Linked DNA regions of Homo sapiens. The protein of the gene in region 3 interacts with the protein of the main gene of each other region in a pairwise test. Each region holds a gene or a part of one and is shown on either strand. Other genes may lie near its edges.

Region 1 (3,825 bases), on a different chromosome or scaffold from region 3:
CACTTTCAACTCAAATCATTATGAAAAGAAAGTTACAATTATATCTAAACTGAACCTGATGAGAAAATATTACACTCAAGTTGCACAGTATAATAATTTATTAATGAAAGGTTTTTACTAACTTTTCAAGATGTGTAGCCCTATAATTGTTAGATTAATTTAGGTAAATCTAAGTATGACATTGAATTTAAAAAAGGAAGCGTTAAAATATAAACCATTTTGATTTTTCCCCTATAATAGTGAATAATATTTTGAGCCCATTTTACGAGATAATCATTTCCAGATGCTGGAAAAAAAAAAAACTTTAGTTGCACTTACTAATCTGTGAAATGTAGCAAATGAACCTTAAGCTACTTCAGGCCTTTGGGGGCCTGGTCCTCCTCTTTATTTCAAGGTCCAACCAAGTGTTTAACTCAAGTAGTTTTGCTTCTGTTTTTCTTTCCCAATCTAAATTCCAACCCACATTTCCCCCAACAGGCTAATTTTCCAACTAGAGGACACATTCACATCTCATAAAGAATTTGATTTTAGGCTGAGGCAGGAAGATGACTTGAGCCCAGGAGTTTGAGGCTTGAGGCTGCAGTGAGCTAGGATCACGCCGCTGCACTCCAGCCTGGGCAACAAAGCAAGACCCTGTCTCTTAAAAAATAAAATAAAATAATTTGATTTCAGCAGCTCACTATTATGAACCAAAGCACAGGGCTTCTTGTTAATTTTATCCATTCCACAGGTTTGTGTTCAATTAGCTTGGCTCCATGATGTGGGCTCGTTCATAGCTCAGGAAAACAACATGTGTCCATCTGGGAGGTGGAAAAGGAGCAGCTGTGGCCAAACAGCACTTCTGTCTTTACGTGGTGTAAGGCCATGATTTCAGCGCATGATGCATTTGTTTACACAACCTGCATTTCCACACACTAGTTTTCTTGTGGGTGATTTAAGATGACCCATAATCTGATGATAGTTATGGTTCCAGATAAAGCAAATAGGTGTGAGAGCCTTCTTTAGTTTGTATGACTCAATTTTAATCAAGTTTTTCCTATACACATCTCTCCAGAAGGGAACAAAACTGAGATATTTGGAACATTTTTTGCTGAGATATTTGAGAGAACAAAGCCAGCCTGTTTACCTACAGGAAAAGCATATCTTGAAGTTGTTTTTAATGCAACATTTAAAATGTCAACAGGAACAGACAGAAAGAAGGTTAGAAAACATATGAGAGGACCCTGGGTTCTAGTGTTTCAATCTATTGAAATGTCTACTTTTTCCTTATTGGCAAAATGAGGATAATTTGCCTCCCACAGAAGGGTTCATGTAGTTATTATAATCATGTCAGTTAATCAACATATTTGATAAAACTATCTCCTGTTATTGGAAGTGTTTCATAAGATTTTACTTCTAAATAATCTCCTTAGACCTAGGAATAATTTTTTTGCATACACTTAACCTGGTATGTCACCAATGCCAAATTAGTGGTAAGTTAGTGAAGGGTTAATACATGAAATTAATGTTCAGTGGTTTCACTTGTCCCCTTCCCGGCATTGACGTCAGTGCCCTTTGTGATGAGGACACGTCTAATGGCTACACTTTGCTGAGGATATTCTCCCGATAAGGACTGTGAGTATGCTAGGGAGATTGTTATAAGAGAAATCTTATTCCCAACTATTTCTGAACATTCTCTAATAGTTTAATGGAAGTACATTCAAAGACTAAGTTGGCAGATAAAGAATGGTACTATTCATTCATCTTTGTTCTTTGAAAGAAAGGAAATACAGAATCCTAAAATATTTACCTACAAATGCTTTAAAGGAACACAGTATAGAAGAAAGAAGCTTTAAATGTTTGAATAAGGTTGAAAGCCCACAAAAGAATTGTTGTTAATACATTATGATTGCTATGGGTTACGGTATCATCTTTTAAGTACTCTGCAGTTATTGGGTGACTACGAATTGTTATGAAAATATTTATTTTATCCTGAGATTACATGGGTAGCTGGATATTTGGATACTATTGAATGAGTTTCTTGTCCATATGCTATTATTATATCCATGTATACTACTAGTAAAAGTTATGCATAATAATTCTTTACCATTGAAATTTAGCAGATTTAACTTGTAAGACATTATTTCTAAAGCTTCCTTTCTGTTGCTGTTTTAGGAAGCTTAAAGAACCTGCTTCTTTCTGCAGTAGAAGCGTGTGCTGGAACCCAAAGAGTACTCCTTTGTTAGGCTTATGGACTGAGCAGTCTGGACCTTGCATGGCTTCTGGGGCAAAAATAAATCTGAACCAAACTGACGGCATTTGAAGCCTTTCAGCCAGTTGCTTCTGAGCCAGACCAGCTGTAAGCTGAAACCTCAATGAATAACAAGAAAAGACTCCAGGCCGACTCATGATACTCTGCATCTTTCCTACATGAGAAGCTTCTCTGCCACAAAAGTGACTTCAAAGACGGATGGGTTGAGCTGGCAGCCTATGAGATTGTGGACATATAACAAGAAACAGAAATGCCCTCATGCTTATTTTCATGGTGATTGTGGTTTTACAAGACTGAAGACCCAGAGTATACTTTTTCTTTCCAGAAATAATTTCATACCGCCTATGAAATATCAGATAAATTACCTTAGCTTTTATGTAGAATGGGTTCAAAAGTGAGTGTTTCTATTTGAGAAGGACACTTTTTCATCATCTAAACTGATTCGCATAGGTGGTTAGAATGGCCCTCATATTGCCTGCCTAAATCTTGGGTTTATTAGATGAAGTTTACTGAATCAGAGGAATCAGACAGAGGAGGATAGCTCTTTCCAGAATCCACACTTCTGACCTCAGCCTCGGTCTCATGAACACCCGCTGATCTCAGGAGAACACCTGGGCTAGGGAATGTGGTCGAGAAAGGGCAGCCCATTGCCCAGAATTAACACATATTGTAGAGACTTGTATGCAAAGGTTGGCATATTTATATGAAAATTAGTTGCTATAGAAACATTTGTTGCATCTGTCCCTCTGCCTGAGCTTAGAAGGTTATAGAAAAAGGGTATTTATAAACATAAATGACCTTTTACTTGCATTGTATCTTATACTAAAGGCTTTAGAAATTACAACATATCAGGTTCCCCTACTACTGAAGTAGCCTTCCGTGAGAACACACCACATGTTAGGACTAGAAGAAAATGCACAATTTGTAGGGGTTTGGATGAAGCAGCTGTAACTGCCCTAGTGTAGTTTGACCAGGACATTGTCGTGCTCCTTCCAATTGTGTAAGATTAGTTAGCACATCATCTCCTACTTTAGCCATCCGGTGTTGGATTTAAGAGGACGGTGCTTCTTTCTATTAAAGTGCTCCATCCCCTACCATCTACACATTAGCATTGTCTCTAGAGCTAAGACAGAAATTAACCCCGTTCAGTCACAAAGCAGGGAATGGTTCATTTACTCTTAATCTTTATGCCCTGGAGAAGACCTACTTGAACAGGGCATATTTTTTAGACTTCTGAACATCAGTATGTTCGAGGGTACTATGATATTTTGGTTTGGAATTGCCCTGCCCAAGTCACTGTCTTTTAACTTTTAAACTGAATATTAAAATGTATCTGTCTTTCCTAGTATGTTTTTATCTTCTCATGTATTATCCATGGTTTTCTCTGTTTGTGACAGATTAGTAAAATTTAATGAGCCCTCTTTCTTGTGGCCGTTTCTCCATAGTTTTAGGTTTTGATATGTGTTTACTAGCTTGCCTGTGTCTGGTACATCTCATGACCTCAATTCCCTCACCTGAAATAGGAAATGAGAATGTTTCATTGTAGCCCCAAGCGGTCATGTCAACCTAGTGCC
Region 2 (3,600 bases), on a different chromosome or scaffold from region 3:
AGGAACTGATCCTCATAAAAGTCAGGTGTAAGGCCTGCAAACTCAAAAGGAAGTCAAATGAAAACCATTATGTGATTCAATCTATATGGTTATGCCTGGCTAACTGACTGACTTTACAATGGTACTCTGTGATCACTATAAACAACCCTCTCTCAACAATATGGACTTTATTTCTTTGCGACTGACAATCCATTATCTTTCATTTGGACGATTCAACATTGGAGCTAAGATTATTGCTTAAGTCGCATGTCTAATCTCTCCCACTGAACTGTAAATCCTACTAAACTGTAATCTCTACCTACACTAGAAAGCAAGCACCATGTCTTATACTTGTTTTAATATTCTTCCCCCATTTCATGCACAGTGCTATGCACTTAGCACCTTAAGAAAGATTAACTAGGAAATATACTCATTTTTGATGTCCATTCCTAGGAGTTTATGTGTGATGGGGGATAGGGCTGGGACATGAAATGGTTTGCTATAGCGTTCTCTCCTCTTAGGAGGAAGCTGGTATCTAACGTTTAGGGTGGGGAGGAGAGCCTGTTATCGAGGTGGTGGTTGTTTTATGTTTAGGGAAACCAAATATATTGCCTGGCTAATTCAGAGGCAGGGTGAGCTCAAAGGGTGGAGACACTCAGGGTCTACTTCACTCCAACCCTCCTCGGTGCATTTCAAACAGAACAAGTTTCTCTCCGAGTCTTTTAGTCGTTTCAGAATGAACTGAGAGATCTGGTCTCTCTGCCGGCCGTTCTGCCCGCTTTCTGACACAGACTTTCCTCTAAGCCCTTACCGACTTTTTCCTCTGGCTGTTGCTTTTCCACTCTCTTCTTAAGAATTTTCCCTGCCTTTTCCTGTGATTTGAAGCTTATCTGAAGCCCAGTATCCTAAGACTAACGGAGAAAGGAGCCGACTCAAAGATACCACACCCCAAGGGGGGCTTTCGACATCTCTGCCTCAGACCACAGTTCACAGACCCCAGAAGAAGGAAAAGGAGATAAAAACCGGTGATGACCGAGATCCCTGAGGGACTGACTGGTGGCAGGGAGCAGACAAAGGTGGCAACATGGAAAGGAAAGCCTGGCTCCCGCTCCAACTGCAAAAGGAGAAAGATAAAGGATGGGGTGGAAAGGCTGGGACTGGAAAAATGTGGAGAGGGCCAACAAGGGGCATCTGGAGACGGGGGAAGAAGGGGGTTAAGGAGAGGGGCGGAGAGAGGCCAAGAGGCTGAGAGGTTAGGGCTTGAAAGAGGGCGCCGGCGAGCAGGAGAAAGCCCAAGAAGGAGTCGGAGGTTGGGGAAGGAGGAGATAAAGGAAAAACCCCGGGATGGAGTGAAGACGGCGGCAGCAAGCAACTCACCAGAGCCCAGGGAGAGGCAGGGCTGGGGACGGCGGAGAGCCGCAGACGCCCCTTCGGCCAGTAGTCTCGACTTGAAGGCTGGCGAAGCCCCGGCGGCGGCAGCCAACGAGCCAAAGACGGGAGGGGACGCGTGAGGGACTCTGAGACAGGGGGCAACAGGCGGTTACGGGTGAGGACAACAGGAAGCGTTCCAACTGCCGGAAAAGACGCGAGCGCTGAGGGGCCAAGGCAGCCCGGTCCCCCGCCGCGGAGACGGGCTGGCGCGGCAGCCCGGGGCCGAGACTACGCATGCGCGACTTCCCGGAGCGGCCGGGATTGCGGAACTGCGCTTGCGTGGCCCCGCCCTGCCCCTCCCTTCACCCCCTGCCTAGGGCTGGCTGGACCTGGGTGAGGCCAGATGTGTGAGTGTGAGGCGGTCTCGAAGTAGGCTGGGCTGAGGGGGAAGTTCCATTGTTTTCTTTTGTTTTACTTTTTACTTCGAAATAATTATGGACTCACAAGAAGTTGCAAAATTAATACATACAGGTTCCCTATACCATCACCCACCCAGCTTACCTCAACATTTTTCTTAAGATACAACATTCTCAAAGCCAGGAAATTGACATTCGCACAATACAATTAACTAAACCAATACAATTAACTAAACCAATACAATTAACTTCATTACAGACCACACTCGGATTTAACCTGTTGGGTATGCAGTCATGTGCGTGTGTGTGAGTGTGTGTGTAGTTCTATGAAATGTTGTCACCTGTATAGTTCCCACCCACCCCCCTACCCCGTGTAGAACAGGTCTGCTGGAGCCCTTGGCCCCCCTCCTCTTCCTTAAAGTAAGGACCTTACCTGGGATAAGGTGAGCTCTCATAGGTTTGGGAGGTTACCCAGCGGGCGACCCAGTGTGGACAGAAGAAGGTGCTTTTCAAGGCCACCCAACTCTTATTCTGTACTACTTTTGGGGGTAAAGAGGTCCCAAGTTTAATAGCCTTTGGGCACTTGTCGTTTCTTGAGAATGGAGCACAAAGCCCTCAACTACAAAGTGTCAAGCTCCTGGAAACTAAGATGAACGAGACATGGTCCCTGACTGCCTGCAAAGGGGCCATCTAGGGAGAGAAGGAAGCATGTGCTGCGAGTTATTCATTCATTTCATCTTCAAAGCCCAGTTTCCTTTTGTCTAGCCTCTTAACAAAAATCACTTCTCGCCAGGCGCGGTGGCTCCTGCCTGTAATTCCAGCACTTTGGGAGGTCCAGGTGGGAGGATAGCTTGAGCCTAGGAGTTTGAGACCAGTCTGGGCAACATAAGGAGAATCCACCTCTAAAAAAATTTTTGTAATTGGCCAGCATGGTGGCAAGTGCCTGTGGTCCCACCTACTGTGGAGGCTGAAGCAGGAGGATTGATTGAGTCCAGGAGTTCAGGGCTGCTATGAGCCATGATCATGACACTGCACCCCAGCCTGGGCAACGGAGGGAGACCCTGTCTCAATCAGTCACTACATACATATCAATCAATCACTTCGCCTTTCATTCTCTCTGCCCAGAGGCCCTTCTCCCCAAATGCCTGTTGTCAAAGTCCTACCCATTCTTAAGCTTTTAATAATAGTCCAAGATGTCTGCATAATGCTTTACAGTTTACAAACAACTTTCACTTATTTAATCTCACTTGGTCCTCACTTTGGCAGTGACACACGAGGTTTTGCAGATGAAGTAATTGATACTTAGAGAAGCTAAGTGACTTGTCTGAATTCCCACGGCTAGTAAGCCAAGTAGCCAAGAGGGGAACCCCATTTTCTGTCTGCAAATCCAATGTTCTTTCTCCTCTTCTCTTTCCTCCTTCCAAAGCCCAGCTCAAACCTTATCTTCCTCCTGGAACTTTCCCAGTTTCAGAAGAGGAATTTCACTCTCTCTTCTCTCTTATATATATGTTTTTTTTGGTGGGGGGAGGGGGGTTGTTTTTGTTTTGTTTTGAGACGGAGTGTCGCTCTATCACTAGGCTGGAGTGTAGTGGCACGATCTCGGCTCACTGCAACCTCCACCTCCCAGGCTCAAGTGATTCTCCTGCCTCAGCCTCCTTAGTAGCTGGGACTACAGGACTACAGGCACGTGCCACCATGCCCAGCTAATCTTTTCTTCTTCTTCTTCTTCCTCTTCTTCTTCTTCTTCTTCTTCTTCTTCTTCTTCTTCTTCTTCTTCTTCTCCTTCTCCTTCTCCTTCTCCTTCTTCTTTTTTTTTTTTGAGACGGAGTCTTGC
Region 3 (3,825 bases):
CCTCAGCCTCCTGAGCAGCTGGGAACTACATGCTCACACCATCACACCTGGCCAATTTTTTTTTGTAGAGTTGGGGTCTTGCTATGTTGCCCAGGCTGTATATTATTTCAGTCCCAACAACACCATGGGGCTAGTATCCCAGCACACTATTAAGAGAAACAGATAAGGCTGGGATTCCAACCCTGGCACTGAGTCCCCTCTCAACGACACCCTTACATTGTCTGTCCGGAATCACAGCGTTTCTGGATTTGGTGATCAGGAGGTTACCTGGAGCCTGCTGAAGTGAAATCTGCATTAACTGTACGTTTCAAAGTGCAAAGAAAAGGAGAAAGCCAAGGTGATGAGAGGCGGGCAGGGAGCAGGAAAAGGGAGGCTGTGTTAGATGGGCACTACATATTTAAACATCCAAAAAAATTAAATTCTGTGAACATCCAAAACAATGTAAGGTCGGGGCAGTTTATTTTACGCTGTTGCCCGGAGCTTCATAACCAACTAGCAGTGGCGTCTGCAAATCTAGTTTCTTCACTTTCGGCAGCCCCAGCCGTGGGCGTGGGAGGTCAAAGACCAAAACTAAACCGTTGCCCTCCAGCGTACCGGCTGGACGCTCTCGACCCATTTAACAAAGGAGAAATCGGCCGGCGCGCTCATCGCCAGTTACATAATGCGTCACAGGCTCTCGGGTGAGGCTTCAGCCCTCCAAAACCAGGCCTAAAATGCTGAGGCCCTAGGGGAAGCTCTGGGGGCGTCCGGGCAGCCACAGCCTACTCTGTCCCGGCGACGTCCCTCTCCAGCGCCCTGGCCTGTGGGGGGAGAGGGGGATCCGGCCTGTTTCCGAACCTAGGTCCCTCTTGGGTCTGAAGCCCGGGAAAAGTGAATGAATTTCTGCCGCAGGCCGAACCTGCCTGGCCACGCCACAGGCCGGGTTCCCGGTGCTCGGGGTGGCCCCCAGGCATGGGACATGGACCCCGGGACCTCTGGCCTGGGGGGGCCTCGACACACGCAGGCTGAACCTCCCCACCGCCCCTGGCCCTGTCTCCGCTGGGTCCCACCCAGGAGGCCGGCACAGGCCTCCGCGCCGTGCCGCTCGCTGCACGCCCGCCGCCCGGTGTACCTGGGTGGGCGTCAGCACTTTGCCCAGCTCGTCCACCGCCGCCCCGGCGTAGGTGACATGCAGCGGGTGCTGCGGCTGCTCGTCCACTTCTTGCAGGCTCAAGGGCCCGGACCACTTGCTGAGGTCCACCGGCATGGCGAGGCCAAGCAGAGCGTGCAGCCGGGAGTGCCGCGGTAGGCCAGGCGCGGGCGACAGAGGCGACGCGGAGAGCTCAGCACACTGGCTCGGGAAGACGCAGACCCAGCGACCACGCGAGAGCACGCGCCTCAGCCGCCGCCCAGCCCCGCGCACCGCCCCACGTCACGCCCACCGCTCCCTGGCCTCTGATTGGCCGAAGCTGGCAGAGCAGGGCCTCTCGCGCTCCTGGGTCCATGCAACCTGCTCCCTGTGGCTGCCGAGTTCTCGGGAACAGCGGCTCGGCCTGCAAGGCTGTTGTTTCAAGAAATGAAAATGAAGGGCGCCCTGGAATAGGTTCGCCGAAGAGAGAGGTTCGTGTCTCAGAAAGTGTCGCTGGGAAAAAAAAATGCAATTGAATTCGCCTTGGTTGCGTTTTGGTTTTCTTAATTTTTTGCATGATTCTTTGCTCCACTTTCCAAATTCAGCAACATGGCCTGTCGCGGTGGCTCATGCCTGTATTCCCAGCACTTTGGGAGGCCAAAGCAGGAAGATCGCTTGAGCCCAGGAGTTTGAGACCATCCTGGACAAGGTAGCAAGACCCCGTCTTTACAGAAAACTTAAAAAAAAAGAAAAAAAGAAAAAAGCCAGACACAGTGGTGCATGCTTGTAGTCCTAGCTACTCCGGAGGCTGGGGCGGGAGGATCACTTTTTTTTTTTTTTTTTTTTGAGACGGAGTCTCTCTGTGTTGACCAGGCTGGAGTGCAGTGGCGTGATCTCGGCTCACTGCAAGCTGCGCCTCCCGGGTTCACGCCATTCTCCTGCTTCAGCCTCCCGAGTAGCTGTGACTACAGGCGCCCGCCACCACGCCCGGCTAATTTTTTGTATTTTTAGTAGAGACGGGATTTCACCGTGTTAGCCACGATGATCTTGATCTCCTGACCTCGGCCTCTCAAAGTGCTGGGATTACAGGCGTGAACCACCACGCCCGGCCGATCACTTCTTGAATCTAGGAGTTTGAGGCCGCGGTGAGCTACGATCTTGCCACTGCACTCCTGTCTGCGCTTCAGAGCCAGATCCCATCTTCTCATACACACACACACACACACACACACACACACACACACACACAGCAAATTCAGAAACAGTAAGGCCTTGCTTTTCTCCTGCACTTTAAAACGAGCCAGATTCTCTGTATTTTCGCACGTGATCACTTGTCATAGTAATTGCCTGGTGAGAGCACCTGAGTGAACTTTTGAGCATTTAAATATATGGGGAAATGTATTTGTCCGTTTTCTCCACACACAAAATTCGTCCTCACAAAATTCCTGAGAAATGTTTGGGTTTTGGTTTTTTATGTTTGTTTTTTGAAAAACAATTTTAAACCATATTTATTCATACCAAAACTGCTCTTACTGTGACCACAAGCTGCTTGCTTTTTGCTGAATATGATAAGCACTATTTTTTTTTTTTTTTTTTGAGACGGAGTCTTGCTCTGTCGCCCAGGCTGGAGTGCAGTGGCGTGATCTCAGCTCACTGCAACCTCTGCCTCCCGGGTTCAAGCAATTCTCCTGTCTCAGCCTCCCGAGTAGCTGGGATTACAGGCAGGCGGCACCGCGCCCAGCTAATTTTTGTATTTTTAGTAGAGACAGAGTTTCACCATGTTGGCCAGGCTGGTCTCGAACTCCTGACCTCATGATTCGCCTGCCTCAGCCTCCCAAACTGCTGGGATTACAGGCAATAAGCCACCGCGCCCAGCCAATAAGCACTATTTAACAGTTCTTATCTGTTTTGACTCTTGACATTGATAATTCCTCCCATGGAATAAAAAGTTGTCTCTTGATTTACATTCTTACTAGGAAATAATACGAGTTCATTGTAGAAAATCAAAGAAAAAAACCCAAAGAAGTAGAAATCCCCTTCTATCCCACTACTTTGTTATAAACGTCAGTAATCATTTAGGGTATATCTTTCCTATTTAAAAATAATATGAGTATAGATGATTTTGTTGTTTATTCACCAAAAGATTGCATTATATCCTACCATTATAAAATAGTCATATCAAAAATAGGTCGTCAGGCCAGGTGCGGTTGCTGAGGCCTCTAATCCTAGCACTTTGGGAGGCTGAGGCAGGAGGATCACTTGAGTCCAGGAGTTTGAGACCAGCCGGGACAACATGGTGAAACCCCATCTCTACAACAAAATACAAAAATTAGCCCGGTATGGAGGGATGTGCCGGTAGTCACAGCTACTACCAAGGCTGAGGCAGGAGGATCACTTGAGCCTGGGAGTTTGAGGCTGCAGTGAGCCGTGATTGTGCCACTGCACTCCAGCCTGGGCGACAGAGTGAGACCCTATCTCTACAAAAATAAAGCAAAATAAAAAAAGTCTTCAACATTTTAATGACTTCTCTAGATGCACCATCATTTATTCAACAAGCCTCTTGATGTACTCTGTTTTGTTCATTGTTTTCCTTTTACAAATATCACTGAAATGAACTTCCTTATACATATATCTTTAAAAACTTGAAAGACTGTTTTTGGAAAATTTTATTACATGGGAACTTTTATTAATTAGGTCAAAAAATACACACTTTATTT

Evidence for each region.
Region 1: the proteins of PEBP1 (region 3) and TNFRSF19 interact in binary tests that used the Homo sapiens proteins (3 or more experiments, as listed by UniProt).
Region 2: the proteins of PEBP1 (region 3) and STK38 interact in binary tests that used the Homo sapiens proteins (3 or more experiments, as listed by UniProt).

Annotation. Positions count from the first base shown.
Region 1 is NC_000013.11:23,671,218-23,675,042, forward strand, and holds part of TNFRSF19 (tumor necrosis factor receptor superfamily member 19 isoform 2 precursor), read left to right. Parts: intron 1-2,154; coding exon 2,155-2,163; coding exon of another isoform or gene 2,164-2,302; 3' UTR 2,303-3,825. UniProt on the Homo sapiens protein: Can mediate activation of JNK and NF-kappa-B. May promote caspase-independent cell death.
Region 2 is NC_000006.12:36,545,834-36,549,433, forward strand, and holds the start of STK38 (serine/threonine-protein kinase 38), read right to left. Parts: upstream 1,647-3,600; 5' UTR 1,357-1,646; intron 1-1,356. UniProt on the Homo sapiens protein: Serine/threonine-protein kinase that acts as a negative regulator of MAP3K1/2 signaling. Converts MAP3K2 from its phosphorylated form to its non-phosphorylated form and inhibits autophosphorylation of MAP3K2.
Region 3 is NC_000012.12:118,133,631-118,137,455, reverse strand, and holds the start of PEBP1 (phosphatidylethanolamine-binding protein 1), read right to left. Parts: upstream 1,333-3,825; 5' UTR 1,247-1,332; coding exon 1,112-1,246; intron 1-1,111.